Linked DNA regions of Homo sapiens: region 1 is linked to region 2. A link means that fine-mapping ties the variant in region 2 to the expression of a gene that starts in the linked region. Tissue or cell type: whole blood. Region 2 holds a variant in brackets; the other region holds the start of a gene. All regions are shown on one strand. Distances are from middle to middle.

Evidence for each region. PIP is the estimated chance that this variant, and not a neighbour inherited with it, causes the effect.
Region 1: it holds the start of ITPRID2, and the variant in region 2 is fine-mapped to the expression of ITPRID2 in whole blood (TOPMed, PIP 0.90).

What each region holds. Positions count from the first base shown.
Region 1 is chr2:181,887,943-181,896,055 of GRCh38, forward strand. ITPRID2 (ITPR interacting domain containing 2) reads left to right here and starts at 3,788. Exons shown (of 18, transcript NM_001130445.3): 1 at 3,788-4,335; 2 at 4,673-4,718; 3 at 8,088-8,113. The coding sequence starts at 4,125. RefSeq lists silencers at 3,665-3,994, 4,285-4,424.
Region 2 is chr2:181,640,504-181,648,616 of GRCh38, forward strand. The region is part of intron 1 of CERKL (CERK like autophagy regulator); the gene reads right to left. Among named protein-coding and RNA genes, the nearest start is that of CERKL, 13 kb to the right of the region's middle. The variant T/G (reference allele first, on the strand shown) is at 4,080.

The sequences.
Region 1 (8,113 bases), 250 kb after region 2:
TAATGGATACATTGAGGGGCCAAAAAGATTTACTGTTGAAATAAATTTTATAACTATTGGGTTTAAAAAATTAAAGTTTTAAAAAACAAGTTTTGAAGACGTCTCAAGTCTTTAACATTCATTGTGACTGGGCTGGGGTGGAGGAAGAGGAGGGGGTATAATATGCAGTGTTTTCCATTCTTATTTTATATAGAATTTTTTTCTCCAGGCAATACTATCAAAATATAAAATGCTACTTTGTTCATTTAACCTGATATTCTACTTAACCTTATACCTCTGAGGCCCCTTTTGTCTTAACAAAAGATGAGAATTTGAAGAAATAACTGCAACTCTACCACTCTCTAATCAGATTCTAAATAATTAAGATTTTGATGCACAAAATACAATTTTTGAGCATATAAATATTATTAAAGAAACAATACCATAACTACAACCAAAATGGCTTAGCCTACCCAATAGTAAATCTTGTTTTGCAATTTTAAATATCTAATTAAACCAAGAACAATGTTTCCCTTATGATTCATGCTTTCCCATATAAAACTGCCTGATTTAACCAAAGTATACGTTTTCTATCTTTGCCTGAACTTATGCCAATTTTAAAATACAGCTGCATAAGCATGATGATAGATGCCATTTGCTAATATGAGAATTATTCCCCCATATGAAATTGATTTATTTTTTGCTTTCTGCAATATAATCATTCTAATAGCTATACTGAGCACCTACATTATTTCTTGTGAGATTCACATCAATTTGGGAAGGTAGTTATCATGATTGCTATTTCAAAGATGAGAAAAGTCATGGCCTTGGGATATTAGCTGTCTTGCCTTATACCATACAGCTAGAAAAAGAGGGAAACATTTCAAACTTCAGTCTAACACCAAAGACCACGTTGCTTCCACTATGTCATGCTGGATGGAATTATCCACATTTAATATACATTTCTTTCTTTTTCCACCTTGCAAACATCATTGATTCAGACAATACTCTTTTTTTTTTTTTTTTTTGAGACAGCGTTTCACTCTTTTTGCCCAGGCTGGAGTGCAATGGCACAATCTCAGCTCACCGCAACCTCTGCCTCCTGGGTTCAAGCTATTCTCCTGCCTTAGCCTCCCAAGTTGGTGGAATTACAGGCATTCGCCACCATGCATGGCTAATTTTGTATTTTTAGTAGAGACAGGGTTTCTCCATGTTGGTCAGGCTGGTCTCAAACTCCTGACCTCAGGTGATCTGCCCCGCCTCAGCCTCCCAAAGTGCTGGGATTACAGGTGTGAGCCACCATGCCTGGCCCAGACAATACTCTTTATGTAGAGCTTCGCAATGTATATTTGCAGTTGGTGTACAAGATAGTACTTGTTTGGGAGAAAATCCTCGAAGAAGCAAACATGCAGACTTTCTTCATGTGTAGTATTCATTATCGAATAAATGAAATACCTTGGGCATTTTAAAACATCTGTAAAAGTTGAGAATACAATGAAAAAACCTTACTTTTCAAGGCAATAGCATACTACTTCAAGGATTTCCTTCTCTATTACTTCTATACCCTCAACATATTTCATTAAAAAATGCCATGTAGAAGAAAGCACACATTTGTGCTACCGGAAACTGAATAATGTATATATTCTACTTTGTTACCTGCTGGTAATTTTTCCCCCTTATTACTTGACTCTGGTTGTTTGATTTTTTTTTAAACTATGGTTAATTATTGCCTTTCACAAGAATTCTTTGTTGTTGTCATCTGAAAGTGTATTTAAACAACTGCAAACCTAAATAAAATATAAGCATTATAGAAATAACATGAAGCAAATTTTAAAATAATCAATTTAGGTGTCTCTTTGAAGAACACAGAAAACAGAAACTACCTCAAGAAGACCCATTATCCCTTGTGGGATCAGCATTTAAAAGTGTAAGGGGTGCAAGAATACTGAAGAATGTTCTATCATCTCTCACAATTTACAATCTGGCTAGTAAGCCAAACATACCTTCCAGGGCCAGTCATATTATTTACTCTACAATCCAGTCCCCAAATAAATGACATAGACATGCTGTTGTATATCAGATCCCTGTGGGAGGGGTGTGATCAGGAGTGGTGGAATGGTGGAGTCAAAAAGTTCTGGCTTAGCTAGATTTTGAAAGTCATGAAGGTAGTGGACAGAAAGAACAGGAATGAATTAATTAGCAAAGACAGAGTAGGCAACAGCACTTAGATATGATAGAATTGAAGCTGGGAGCAGCAGAGGAACAGGGTGGATACGTAAGAACCCTGGATAAAACTTTGAAGGCAGCATATTTTGTGGCACTTGACCAGCCCTTTCAATGCTTCTTCTTAGGTACCTTCTTTATTCATTCTCTTTTTCATCTTCCACACAGGCAGCGAGACTCTGACCTATTTTGGAGAGCCATTAAACTGTTAGCTGCATCCTACTACAGGACCCTTGAAGGCTGAGAAAGTCTTATAGGTTCAAAGAAAAGATTTTCTAGTAGTGAAATTTCAAGCCATAGAGATATTAATATCACTGTTCTAACTCCCCTGACATTTGGCAGTACATAGATGAGACTCAGGAGAATATTATGATGGTTCTGGAAAGCTAGTCTGGATTTTGGATTTGATCTTGGGGATATTAGTAAACCATTAGAAGATGTCTTGGAATTGTAAATCTAGAGCAATGCGCTAGAAAGGAGATAGGAAAGAATGAAGGCAGGAAAATCAGTGTGCTATTTTAGTAGTCTATGACTTATGTGTAAATGCCTGGACAAAAACTAGGCACTATTTCATCTCCAGAGCATTCTTCATTCCAAATTCTCCAAAAGTTATGGTTTCCTGTAGCTATCAATGACAATGCACTTAATTACCTTGTAATTCGAATGCTTCCATTAGGAATTTTACTATGCTCTGGATTTTAATTTCAAATGAAAAATAATTCCTTCCTTAAAATATTTTGTCTACGCAAAATATTCTTTTCAATCACGTTAAGATTTTAAAAAGTGTTCTAACTTGTTCTTCAGAGCATAGCCAAGTACAATAAAATATTGGAAGCCTTACTTATATGTATAGTTCAGATGTAACATTTAGGGGAACAATGCTGCTTGATAGGTCTGTCACATTGTGTCTGGTTTTGGATAGAATTTGAGTATTTTTGCTAATGAGAATTTAAACATAACAAAACGGAATGCCAAAGCTGGCTTTAAAAAGTTTTGAACCCTGACATCATTTGTTTCTTGTATCATGCTGTCTCACCAAAATCCAAGCAACTATCTCCACATTGTCCCAATTGTTTCCTCTATTCTCCCTCACCAAAGTCCAACTTCAATGTGAAATTTCCAGATTAAATATCCTTTCACAATTCATTTTCATTCATAACATAAACACGATAAATAACTTTAAGTATGAAAGTAGCACTCCAGGAAGCTTAGTCTTTTGCAGTTTTTACATTTTGGCAACACCAATCAAGCACCTCTTTCCGTCCTTACCCCAATTCCTTGGACACTAAAGAGTCTATATTCAGGCGACTCTTTCAAGTGTATGTTTCAGGGTGCCCAAGCAGACACTTGTTTTCTCGCGGGGGATGTTTTGTGAGACTTGGCCTCCCCACTTACGTTCTATTTTTAGGTGAGGGAGGAGGAGGAGGAGAGGAGGAAAGATTATTAACAAACTAATCTTGCCCATTCCGCGGGCAGTAGTCGGGGGCTGGCCTGCTCCGCGTCGCGCCGGGCGCGCCCCGCCCTACCGCGCCCCGCGCGGCCCCGGCCGGAAGGGGGCGTGGGCCGCCGCCGAGGGAAGGCGCGCAGACGCGCAGCGGCCGGCCTGCTCCGGGCGCGTCAGGCAGGGGGTGGGGAGCAGGGGCCGGGCGGGCGCTCGGCTCCCAGCCGCGCTCCCTCGGGCCACTAGCGCTCCCGCGCGCGCCCGGCCGCCTTCATGTGAAGCGCCGGCCCTCCGCCCCTTCCCTCCCCTTCCTTCCCTCCCTCCCTCCCTGTCCCCTCCTCCTCCTCCTCCTCCTCCGGCGCCCGCTTCAGCTCCCCGGGGCCCCCTGCCCGGCCGGGCGCTGACAGCAAGGGCGGGGGTCCCTGCCGCCGCCTTGTCTCGCGCAGGGTCCGGCTGGGGTAGCGGAGCCCCCAGTGCGGCCATGGACCGGCCCCTGTCGTCGTCGGCGGAGGCGGAGGAGGAACTGGAGTGGCAAGTGGCGAGTCGCAGGAGGAAGGCCTGGGCCAAGTGCCGCAGCTCCTGGCAAGCGTCGGAGACGGAGGATCTGTCCACAGAAGCGACGACGCAGGACGAGGAGGAGGACGAGGAGGAGGACCTCCCCGGCGCGCAGCTGCCGGCAGCGGGGGGAAGAGGTCGGTGCTCCCGGCCGGGCTCCGGGGGGAGGCTGGTGGGCTGGGGAGAGTCTCGTGCGCCCTGGGCGCCTGCCACGAGTTCTGGGAGAGCCTCGGGCACGGTAGGCCGAGGGGAGAGGGGACACTTCCGACCTTCAAACGCGCGCGCTGAACGAGGCGCCCCCAGCGTCAACACAGACAACTGGGTGCCATCCGATTTCCCTGCCAAGGGACACTGAGACGTGTCGCTTAGGCTGCATTTGCCGTGGTAGATTTTCCTACTTGGGAGGGTCCAGGGTGACTCCGCCGTCGTAGTGCTCCTGGGTGGTAACGTGCTGTCCCCTCTCTCTACCCCCAGGAAACGTGCCCAACGAGAAGATCGCGATATGGCTCAAGGACTGCCGGTGAGTGCTCCCTGGTCCGCCCGCGTCCCGGGGGAGATCCGTGCGGACGGGACGCCGGAGCAGAGCCACTCGGGCCGCGTCCCTGTGGGTCCCGCGACCGTTGTAAGCTACAAACCGGAAAGTGAGCCGGCGGATAGCTTCCTCCTCTAAGCGATTAGAAATGGAAGTGCTGTGACCGCTGATTATTTGGTGACCGTGTTGACTTTACAGTTAGGACTTGAGCTACTCACGCATCGTGTTAGCATCAGAGATCAGAAATCCAGAACAGATAATCATGCCATATTTGTTCTGTTTTTATTTGAAAGAATTCTCACATCTCGAACAGGATATTTTGTTTTGCTTTAGTTTTGGCATCTGTACAACTGGCACGGAATCATTTTCCTTTCAAATGTGTTTTAGACGAGTTTAATTTACCTAACTACACTAAATGGGCTTTAATTTTGTTTCTGTTTGGGGAGCTATTAAAACTAGCTAACTTTGTACTTATAGTTTACTTCTTGAACATGGAATTGTCAGATGGCACTGGAATTCTCAGGGAATAGAACTTTTAAAAGCATTCAGACTGCATAAATCTGTTTAATTACATGCTTTGGCAACTGGTACAAAAATGTTTGATAAAATACAGAGGAGATGAATCATGTTGCACGTAAATCTGACTACAGCAAAATGTACTTGTTTCTTATTCCACTTTGCTAGTTGTAAAATCAGGAATGTAGCCTTTAAACTTTTGTTGGTGTTTGCTTTCGAGCATATTTTTGCTTTCTCAATTTAGATTTTCTTAATATTTTGTTCAAATATTAGAGTTAGGGTAGTTTGTTTTGTTTTGTTGTGGAAAGTGATTCATATGCCAGTTTGCCTCCTCTAAAGACAGACAAGATATTGGCTACCATGATATTAATGCCTTGTTTTGATGAATCGACTGGAACCTTATTGAACACTCTTTATTACAGAACTCGTACCCTTTATTGGAAGTGTCATAGACCCTTCTGAAATATGATGACATATATGGAATAACTTCTGTTTAAAGATGCACAGAGGCAAATACACTGCTTGAAGTCCTTGGACCCCAGATTTACAATCTAGCTGTAAATCAATCTCCCAGTTTTCAGATAAGCCTTAGATATTAGATACTTCACTCAAAGTATGGATCAAGAAATTGTATTAATGTGCTATTGGTTCATTTAATTGTTAAATACTAAAATAGTCTATAATGTAAAAGCTTGAAATTTTGAATGTACATGTTCAAGACCTTTTGGGTGAGATCTGATAAAACTAGTATCTTTCAGGTTTCCACTTAGAAATGTGTTTGAGAAGTTGTTTTGTAACTTTTACTTAAGTCCTTTAAAGCCTCCAATCTGACTCTTTATTTAAATACAGTCCTAAGTACAGTATTGGCTTACTTTAGGTTTCTTAAAATAGGCTTAGCATTACAAATACATTTATAATGTTTTATTGTTTAAATTCAAGTGCATATTCAAAAGAATTTTAAAAATTAAGAACAAGAGAAGAATCACACTATAGTTTAATGACATATAGGATTTAAGATTGTATAAGAGATCCTATCAATTAGACAGTAAATAAGTGCATCTTTTTTGAGACAAATGCAGTAGGCAAATGTTGACATTCACCAGGGCACAGTCAATCCCTGACAATTTCAGAAGTTTTGTTGCCAATACTGATTTATGTGGGCAGATTCTGTAGTCTGCTGCTCCTTCTCTCATGGATTACCTTCTTGTTCCTACAGTTGCACCTATTCTACACAAGAGTGGCATTCATTTGTATCCAGGAAAGCTAGAACAAGTAGTCTTTTAATCTTGGCTATATTATCACAGATTCGACTTAGGATATGTTGCATCTGTATTTTTGTTTTAAATAACAACTCAAGTTCCTTCTCAGAGTTGGGCATCTATGTATTTTGTTTATTATGTACAAATGACCTGAAGACAGCATTTTACCCACTTGATAAGTTCTCAAATAGTCTTTGTTTCTTAGTGCCGTCCATATCCTGAATAAAGATACCGTGTTTTCTTTCCTTAAAGGGAGTCTTTATTTTGATAACCATTTGTGGGGGGACTAAGTAAAAACTGCTTGAATTAACATTTAAGAAATGGTAGAGATTTTGATAGAATTTGGAAGGGAGCAACTATAAAAGTAAGATATTTGTTTTCGAAGGAGGATTCCTGTTACTCTGCTTATCTACCATTTTCTGTTAGTGCATAGACCAGTAGAGACATCTGTGGACAGAGTAATACAATGTTTACATCCAAGAAAGTAGCCATCAGGGAAGGATGACTTTTTAAAGACATACATTAGAATTTTATTAAAATATATGCAAAAAATAGATTAAAGCTTTTATTAATATATTTATGGTAATTGCTTGTGATTCTTTTACGTTTCAAAAGCACTAAGTTTTAAAGAGCTGCCATTGTTAGTATACTTGTAGAAAGTTTTAACCTTTAATTGGCATTTCAGTAACATTTCCTTGAAACTGATATTTTCATGATTGATCCCATGTCTCGTGAATTTTTAACAGCTATAAATTGTTACTGAAGAAAGGTGTGCATCACAAAACAGACCCTCCAATATAAAACAATGTGTTTCTTACTATAACTTGGTTTCAGAGAATTAAAAGTGTTTATTTTTGTATTTGAAAAAAAGATATTTCTCTCATCTGTATTTGAACTACAAGAATGAAAAAATTTTAGCAATGGCTAATCTTAATGTTGATTCTCAAGTCAACTTTTTAGTAATTTTCAAAGTTAAATGAAGAATATATATATTTTTTAGCTTAAAAACAAAGCGAATCTCAAGCTTCTACATTTACATAAAAAGATAGTTGTTGGGGCAAGGGGGAGGCATTAGGTGATGCTCTGAAATGCTAGTGATAGATTAACAGATGAGGTTTAAGGAAACTATTGGGCCTCATTTCCAACTACTCTTCACTTTTTAATTTTATTAAGGTTAAGTTACCTATGACTGAAGATTTGTTTTCTTCTAATTCTGTTTTCTTTTTTGATGGAAGGGGTTGAGAAGAACAGACATTTTCTTAATGCTTATTGTCAGTCATTCTCTCTTTTTTGCAAAGAAAAATGCCAATTCAAATCATTTGTCATTGCCATTTTTGCCCCTAATTGTTAGCACATCAGACATGATTAAATCATTCCTGCTGAACTGACCTGATGGCAGGTATTTGCTTAGTTAGTGAATATTACTTATGTAATCTACTTGCATTCCTTGTGTGTTTTTGGAGGAGAGTTTAACTGTGATTAGAAGCTTATTGAGCTGTAACTCTTTAAGTAAGGCTGTGTAATGACAACTTTCCAAATAGCCTTTCACAAGACTAAGGCTTATACGTTTATATGGTTTCAGTACACCTTTGGGAGCCTCACTGGATG
Region 2 (8,113 bases):
GTGGCAGGCTAGGTGGGATAACAAGTGATATGGTTATGATCAGTATTCTAGTGCTGAGATTACACAACTGCAATGAATTTATCTACTACATCCCTGACCATTTCAACAAGGACGGTCCATTTTCTCAAATTACAGAGGGTACAAAAACATCCAGTCTAGGCAATAGCATCTTCCTGCATACCCAATTGCTCTGTTCTCTATATCCATTGCCCTGGTTCTCTATTCCTTTAGCTTTGCCATGTTTGGATTTCTGCAATTCACTTCAGAACTTCCTACTTTGGACAACCCCATCTGGATTGCCCTCTCTGGTTTAATGACCTTGGTCCAGTCTATCTGATTCTCAATTTGTGTGTCCCTTGGCTTCAATGAACCCACTCCTAGGGGAATAGTTCTGTGCCAGTTCCAGCCCCAGAGGGCCCCATCCGGGATGCAGGAAAGAGAGAGAGGAAGGGTCCACAAAAGTAGATCAGTTTTAAAAAGTGTTTGCCTTCAGATGCTGCCATGTGGACATAGCATATTTAGGAATAACATTAGTCTCCAGACGTTCACAGGGTCAGAGTACACAGACTAAGAGAGTTACCATTTCAAATCTATGTACTATTCTTGTAGTAAGAAACAGATTGAATTTGCCAAATTTCAGTTCAAACAATGTATCACAATGACCATGAAAAATACAATGATTTCTATAGACAAGACTTCAACTTTACTAGTAACCAACTAATCTACACATAATAAAAATATTTTTTGTACACACAAAATATGTTAATATATGTGTGTATATATGTATATATGTGTATGCATATATATATATATATATATATATATATATATATATATATATACATATATATACACATATTTTTTTCCCTGAGATGGGGTCTTGCTATGTTGCCCAGGCTGGCCTCGAACTCCTGGGCTCAAGCAATCCTCCCATCTCAGCCTCCCAAAGTACTAGGATTACAGGTATGAGCTACCGTGGCCAGCCCACGAAATATGTTAAAGGACTCTGCCACTTTGAAATCTCTAAACTCAGTTGCTTTATCTTTAAATAGGCAGCTCAAATTGCATAACCATATCAGTTCTACATTCAGGTTCATTTTTCAAAAGCTATATCTTCCTTTCTATGTAGAAACAAAGACTAAAATGAAAACTTGGGAAGAAAGTAAACAAACATTTTCAACTCTCCATGTGTCAGAGCTGTGTTGTACAATGCAGTTGCCACTTGCTACATGCAGTTATTGAATTCAAATTAATAAAAATTAAATATAATTAAAAATTCAGTTTCTCAGTCACACTAGCCATGTTTCTGTTCAATAGCCACATGTAGCTGGTGGTAACTGTATTGAACACTTCAGATATAGTGCACTCCCATCATTTCAGGAAGTCTAACTGGACAGCCCTGCTTTAGAAAATTCACTCTACATTTGTTTTCTGTGAGACCCAACCTACCCTAACAAAAAGCTAAAACTTTTGAGGCTATTTTTATGATAAATTAGTAGACCTGTCAAAACATTTTAAAACTTTATAAGCAGATAGTATTTGCAGTTACTATGGAAATTTGAGTCTTTGCATACATCTTAAAAATTTCCTCAAATTTGACAGCTTAGAAACAGAACTAAATTTTTTTCTAAAGAGGCTTTTTTCTTAACGTGTAGACTGATGAATCAAAGCATCATGTTTTACTGAGTAATTAGTCCTTCAATAATTCACATGAGTAATAGGTCATATTGGGGTTTAACCCCTGCTTCCATTATTTCTGACCACACAGTCTACCAACAGATGTCTCACTTGGGGTGTACACAACAGAACACCCGGTATCCATTTCACGTACATCTGTTCCCAAACAGCTTAGACAGATTAATACTTAGAATATACTTTGCTCTACTAAGTCTCACGTAATCACCAACTCTTGTTTTGAAATTGTTTTTTCTCATTTTCATATTTTTGCACATTATCTTTTAAACTGCTAAGTGTCAAGTAAATACTTACATAAACTTAAAGCTCAAGAAAATCATTTTGACTCTCTTGTAACAATAAGAAACACTTTCCAGACCTTATTTTGAAGCTCAGCCTTCTCAGATTTTCTAGTCACTGCTCTAATTCAGCTGAGCTCTGAGTTGTGGCAGGAATACTCTTTTGAAAAAAACATAACATGAAATTTGTAACTTGAGATAGTAAGTATATGAAAAATAGAGTTATAAGCCATAATTATGATTCAAAGGCCTAGTTTTATTTTTTTTAAAATCTTTGAAACATACTATTTGAATGCTAATCAAGCATTGTATAAAATCTTTACTCAGAAATTTGATAGAGGATACAGAGAAACGAATGAAGAATGGATGAGCTAGTCCTTTTGTCCATCATGAAATAGCTGCTTAAAGCTAGCCTCAACCAATTCTTTTCCTCCAGAAAATGGTTTCTTCCTTTCCAATGACAATACCTACACCAAAGCGATTGCCCACCTCTAGTCACTGTGCCCTAAAGCTGAGTAAGGCGAGCAAAGGGCTTTGACTTATATTTCCCAGGTGGTTCCTCTAATTAGAAATTCATGAGGGCTCTGAAGTTCCTGATGTAAAATACAACACCCCTCCACACACACCAGACAGTGGGCCCCATTGACCATCAAACCTTACTGAGATTTATTTAATTTGACAAAATTCCCTAATGCCTAAAGGCCATAGAAATAGGTATTTTCTTTAAAATGAAAGTTCATAGGTGGTCAGAACTGATAGTACTTAGAGACAATATAATATAAGCCCTTCATTTTGCCAGTGAATAAACAGTAACTCAGACATGTTAAACAACCTGTCCAAAGTCTGTTATGCACCTTGCTATCTGTTGAGACAAGATCTTAGGGCCTTCAGCGGCCACTGCTGAAATCTTTCCTACACCACAGATGGGAGCAGATTATAGAGAGCTGGAGGAGGGAAGCTATAAAAGATCCTGTAGTGCTTTTCATACTTCAAGGTGTTATCCATTAGGAAATTGTGAAGTTAATTTCACAAATCATAATGAGCATTTGTTTGCAATGGAAACAGAGCATATCAGAGTGACTCTTAAATGGCAATGGTAAGAATTGTTTTGTGAAACTTTTGTTTTAGACAAATCACATATCAGCACAGAAATCTGTATAGTATCTGTCAATCCCTAAAGGGCCGTCATTTCAGAGGACTGAGGAAAAGTGGAGGAGACACATGTTTCCAACATGAGATAGCACTGTGAGCATTTGGCATCTCTGTCACAGAGATCCCTAAATTGATCACTCTTAAACATACTAATATATGAGCTTAACATTGCCTAATCTTACCCATTACTTACTCTCCCCATCAGCTTTTCCTTTACGGGAAATAATGACATTATATTTATTCACACAGGACAGTAAACAAATCTTTCTTTGGGGAGGCACAAAAAAATGCCTGACTCTTCTGCTTTAATCGAACATTTCAAATAAAAGCTTACCCCTTGTTAAACAGATGTCCCAAAAGTTTTTCCTTGGTTGAGATGTAAAACAATGCCAACAGGTGATCAGCGATGCTTTTGAAAATACTGAACTCTGAAAATATCTGATCCAGTATCAGCACAAGCTAAGGGCTAAATCATGAAATACGCAAATAAGTCTGTGGCATCTGTCCATGTCCCCTTTCTGAGGTGTATTCTTAATTTTTGACTTCTCACACCCAGTCCCTGGCACCATACTGGGGGTTGGCCCCACTGGGCACAGCACTTGACCTGCTCTGCCTTGGCAGGGTCCCATGACCCAGAGTGGTCTGACCTTTCACACTTGACTTCAAAAACAGTCACCTGATCCCTTCATCATTTCTTCAGGATTTTTCTCATAGGTCACAGCTAGCTTGATAATTACCTTATTTTAACATAAATAAACCCATGTATGATTCTATAATTAAAATGACCATAATTTAAGATTGTAATAGAAAGATCATCAGGCACCACTGTAGTCAATGAAAAAGATATTTTCTGAATTGATGATGCTCTTTCGTAAACACAGTTTATATTATAATGGCAGCATCCTAATCTATTTAAGCCCTGCTCAGTATTTTCTACTCTGCAGCTGAGCAACA[T/G]GGAACCTTCCTGCCATGAACCTCACATCAGAGAAGTGGATGAACCTTAACTCTTACGATAGAAATCCTGGAATAACGCAAAGTTGAAAAGAACCTCAAGGAGCTTAACATATAATGGGGGAAAAAAACAATCAAAGTTGCATTCAATGTCTCAGTATAGGAGATCCAATTATGCCTAAAGAGAAAACAACTGTAATGAATCTTCATTAATTTTAATGAATGTAAACATGAATCATTCAAATAAAAAAAAGCACAAAGGAAGCTAATTCCCAGCAGCTGGAACAGCAAGAAAGCTTGTGTAGAGAACTAGTTTTGTAATTCTTTCAATTACAGGATGGTAAAATATGAGGAAACTACTGAGAAATGAGGATGCAGAGATAGGCAGGAGCCAAGCATGGAAATCTTATGCCATGTTGAAGAGTGTGTCTCTCATCCTGTTTTCTACTTCAGTGGGCTTTAAACAAGACAGTCACATTCCTGCTAGGCAAAGAGGGAACCCAAACAGACAGACTCAGGATCATTTACCCACCACTCCAATCAAGGCACCCATACTTTTATGTGTTATATACTGGCGATTCATTTAAGAATTTTTTTTAAAAAAGAGTTTTGATGTTTAAAAAGGGGGAGAGGGGAATACTGCCTTTGTAGTTAATGAGGAGTTGGTATCAAGTATATAGGAATGTAGTCACCAAGTTATAATAGAATAGGCAAAACTAAAGTTCATGAGGCCAGTAAACCAGTAACAAATTCATTCATTCAATAAATATTATCTATATGCCAGGCACTCTTCAAGGTGCTGACAGTAAAGAAAAAACATATTCTGAATATCTTCCCTCTCCTCCATCTAGATTTAGTTTCTATCCTCCACCTGCCCTGTTCACTGGGAGGCCATACTGCATGGACTGCATCAAGTGCTCCCCTTGCCCTCTGGCTTAAAGTTGGCTTTGGACTGTGAAATGGGCCAGAAAAGAAGGAACTTGGGTAATTTAGGATTAGTGAGGATTAGTGAGGTAATCAGCCAAGCTGAGGCAAAGGCCACAGCTCCTGCCTAGTGGCCTCCTCTACATAGTCTCTCTGAATCCAGGTTCAGGCACCTGCTCTTTCACTATGCCCTTTTGGGCTTAAAAATGGTATCACCTGCCCAATGATTACTAGTCCCAAGAGTACTTCACTATCTCTATATCTACAGCTTTATAAATACTGACTTTTAAAAATTCTTCTCAAGTTACTCTAATATAAATGTGCCATTTTTTTTCCTATTAGGACAGTCACTAATATAACAGACAAATCCTTGCCATCTTGAAGTGGGGTGGTAATAGAAAGGACAGAGATCAGAAATTATATAGTATACAAGGAGATAAATGCCACTGAGGAATATAAGGCAATACAGGGAACCAGGAAGTATGTAGCAGATGGGAATTTTATACAGGTGACCAGAGAAAGCCTTACTAAGAAGCTAACATTTGTGCACAGGTTCAAAGGAGGTGAAGGAGTAGGTCAAGTGAGAGACTTTGAAGGCCTGAGCTAGGGTAGTGATTGGTCGGACAGAGAAGGATGGCAGATTGGAGAAATACCAAGTAAATAAAGTAGGCAGGATTGGTGGGTGTTTAGAAATAGTGAGTAAGGGACAGTGAGGCTAGAGTTACCTTCAGAATCCTGACTTAGATAACATTCCAGATAGCTTCCTAAATACTCCTTCACTTATTAAGCCAAAATATTCACTACTTACATATGCAATTGTATTATCTAACCCACATAAGCTACAAGCTAATTCTAGTTATCCTAGTTATTGTCCCATAACTTACACAAACCTAAATAGCAAAGTTAAACATTCTGACAGCTGATGCTGAATAATTAGTGAGTTCCATAACCATGATAGGGAACAAAAGATCAGAGTTAGTCTACGGAGCAAGGAAAGTTGCTTTTCTTGTAAACTTACTAAATATATGGCACTTCTGGAGGTAGATGATGGTAGATGAGAACCACAGTGTGCAATACTGACCAGAAAGCATGTAATGAGGAACAGCAGATCAGACCACAGTCCTTGGGACTCCACCATTTGGCAGGCAGATAGAATGAAGTTCCCATGAGAGACTGATAAACTAGGTGCTGGTGGTATTACAAAAACCAAGAGAGTTAAGTCAAAGTCAAATGAAGGAGAAATACAGAAAATAAGGACTGAAAATTTCCACTTCATTGAGCAATTAGAAGACTTCTGCTAATCTCTGCCTGAAGAGTTTCAGTAGAGAAAGAACAAAGCCAGGTCTCAGATGGTTGAAGAATAATTAAGAGGTGAACTAATGGAGATGGTCAGAGTAAGCCAATTTTTCTAGGAGATTATCAGAGCAAGTGAGAAAAAAATAAAAATAAAAAGCAAGGTAGCAGCTAAAGAGAAAAGCTTGTAGGATCAAGGCAGGGAACTGTTAGAATGGGAGAGTCTTGAACATATCTCTGCTTAAGTGAAAGAGCTGGTAGAGAATGAAGGCTAAAAACCAAAGAAAGAAAGTGTAACAGATGAAACAAATTTCTAGATGAAGCTGAAGAGATGGGATGGGTTTGCCTTCAATAGAGATGACTACATCTATTCTGTGGTCATGAATGGAAGCGAATGAAGGCTGAAGGTCACTAAAATGGAAAAGGTCTAGAAAGTCTGAAGCTGTAATAATGATTGCAATATGACCACCACCACTGGCTAGACTTTAGATAAAGAACACTGTGAGCCAGACAACAAAGTTTTAAATAAACATAGAAGAAAAGCTGGAAAATCATACTTTCTCTTCCCTGGGGAGCCCAAAAGACAGCTTGTCAGCCCTCCGAGCCTGCAAGTGTCCAGCCTGACAACTAGCATGACATGCCTGTCCCTAGCAAAACTATACCACCATCAAAAACTCCTGCAGCCTAGGCCACTGAGGAAATCAGACATTGCTGTGAAGATTACAGCTGACGAAACTACACAGAGACCATGGTACTGAATCCACCCCAAACCAAAGCCAATGTACCATACCCAACCAACACTCTAGGACCCATCTACAGGAAAAGTCTCTCCCTGTGAAAGCTACTGCATACAACTGGAAAATGTGACTATTCCACTAGATGTGCAGATGTCACAAGAAACATGAAAAAGCAAGGACACACGACACTGCCAAAGGAACACAGTGAGTCTCTAGTAACAGACCCCAAAGAAAAGGGTGTTTATAAAATGCCTGAAACAAAATTAAAAATAATGATCTTAAAAAAATTCAGCAGGCTACAAGAGAATACAAACAACCCAATGAAATCAGGAAAGTTATAAAATGAGAAATTAAAACAAGATCTATCATTTAAAACACAGAAATCTGAAGAATGCAGTGAATAAAAGACACAATCGAGAGCTTCAAGAATAGACCAGATCAAGCAGAAGAAAGAATTTCAAAATCTGAAAATAGGTTTTGTGAAATAACCCAAAGTTTAAAAAAAACTAAGCAAAGAAATTTTTGCATTATAGAACTGGCAGATGGAGAAAAGTTGAAGAAAGGCACAGAAAACCTATTTAATGAAATAATAGCTAAAAACTTCCCAAATATTGGGGGAGATATAGACATCCAGATGAAGGAACCACAAAGATTCCCAATTAGATTAAACCCAAAAAGATTCTCTCTGTGGCACATTATAGTCAAACTGTCAAAAGTTGAAGACAGAGAATTCTAAAATCTGCAAGAGAAAAGCATCAAGTTACATGTAAGGGAATCCTAATTAGACTATCAGTAGATTTCTCATCAGTAACATTAAATTACTGATGTATGCCAGGAGAGAAAGGGATAATTTATTCAAGATGCTAAAAGAACAAAAAAAAACGAGTCTCGGCCAAGGACAAAAGATACTATATCCAGCAAAACTATCCTGGAGGAGAATAAAGGCCTTCCCAGACAAACAAAAGCTGAGGGAATTCACTCCTACACCAGCCTTACAAGCAATGTTTACAGGAGTGCTACAGCTGTAAATGAAAAAATGATAACTATCATGAACACATGTGAGAATATAAACCTCACCAATAG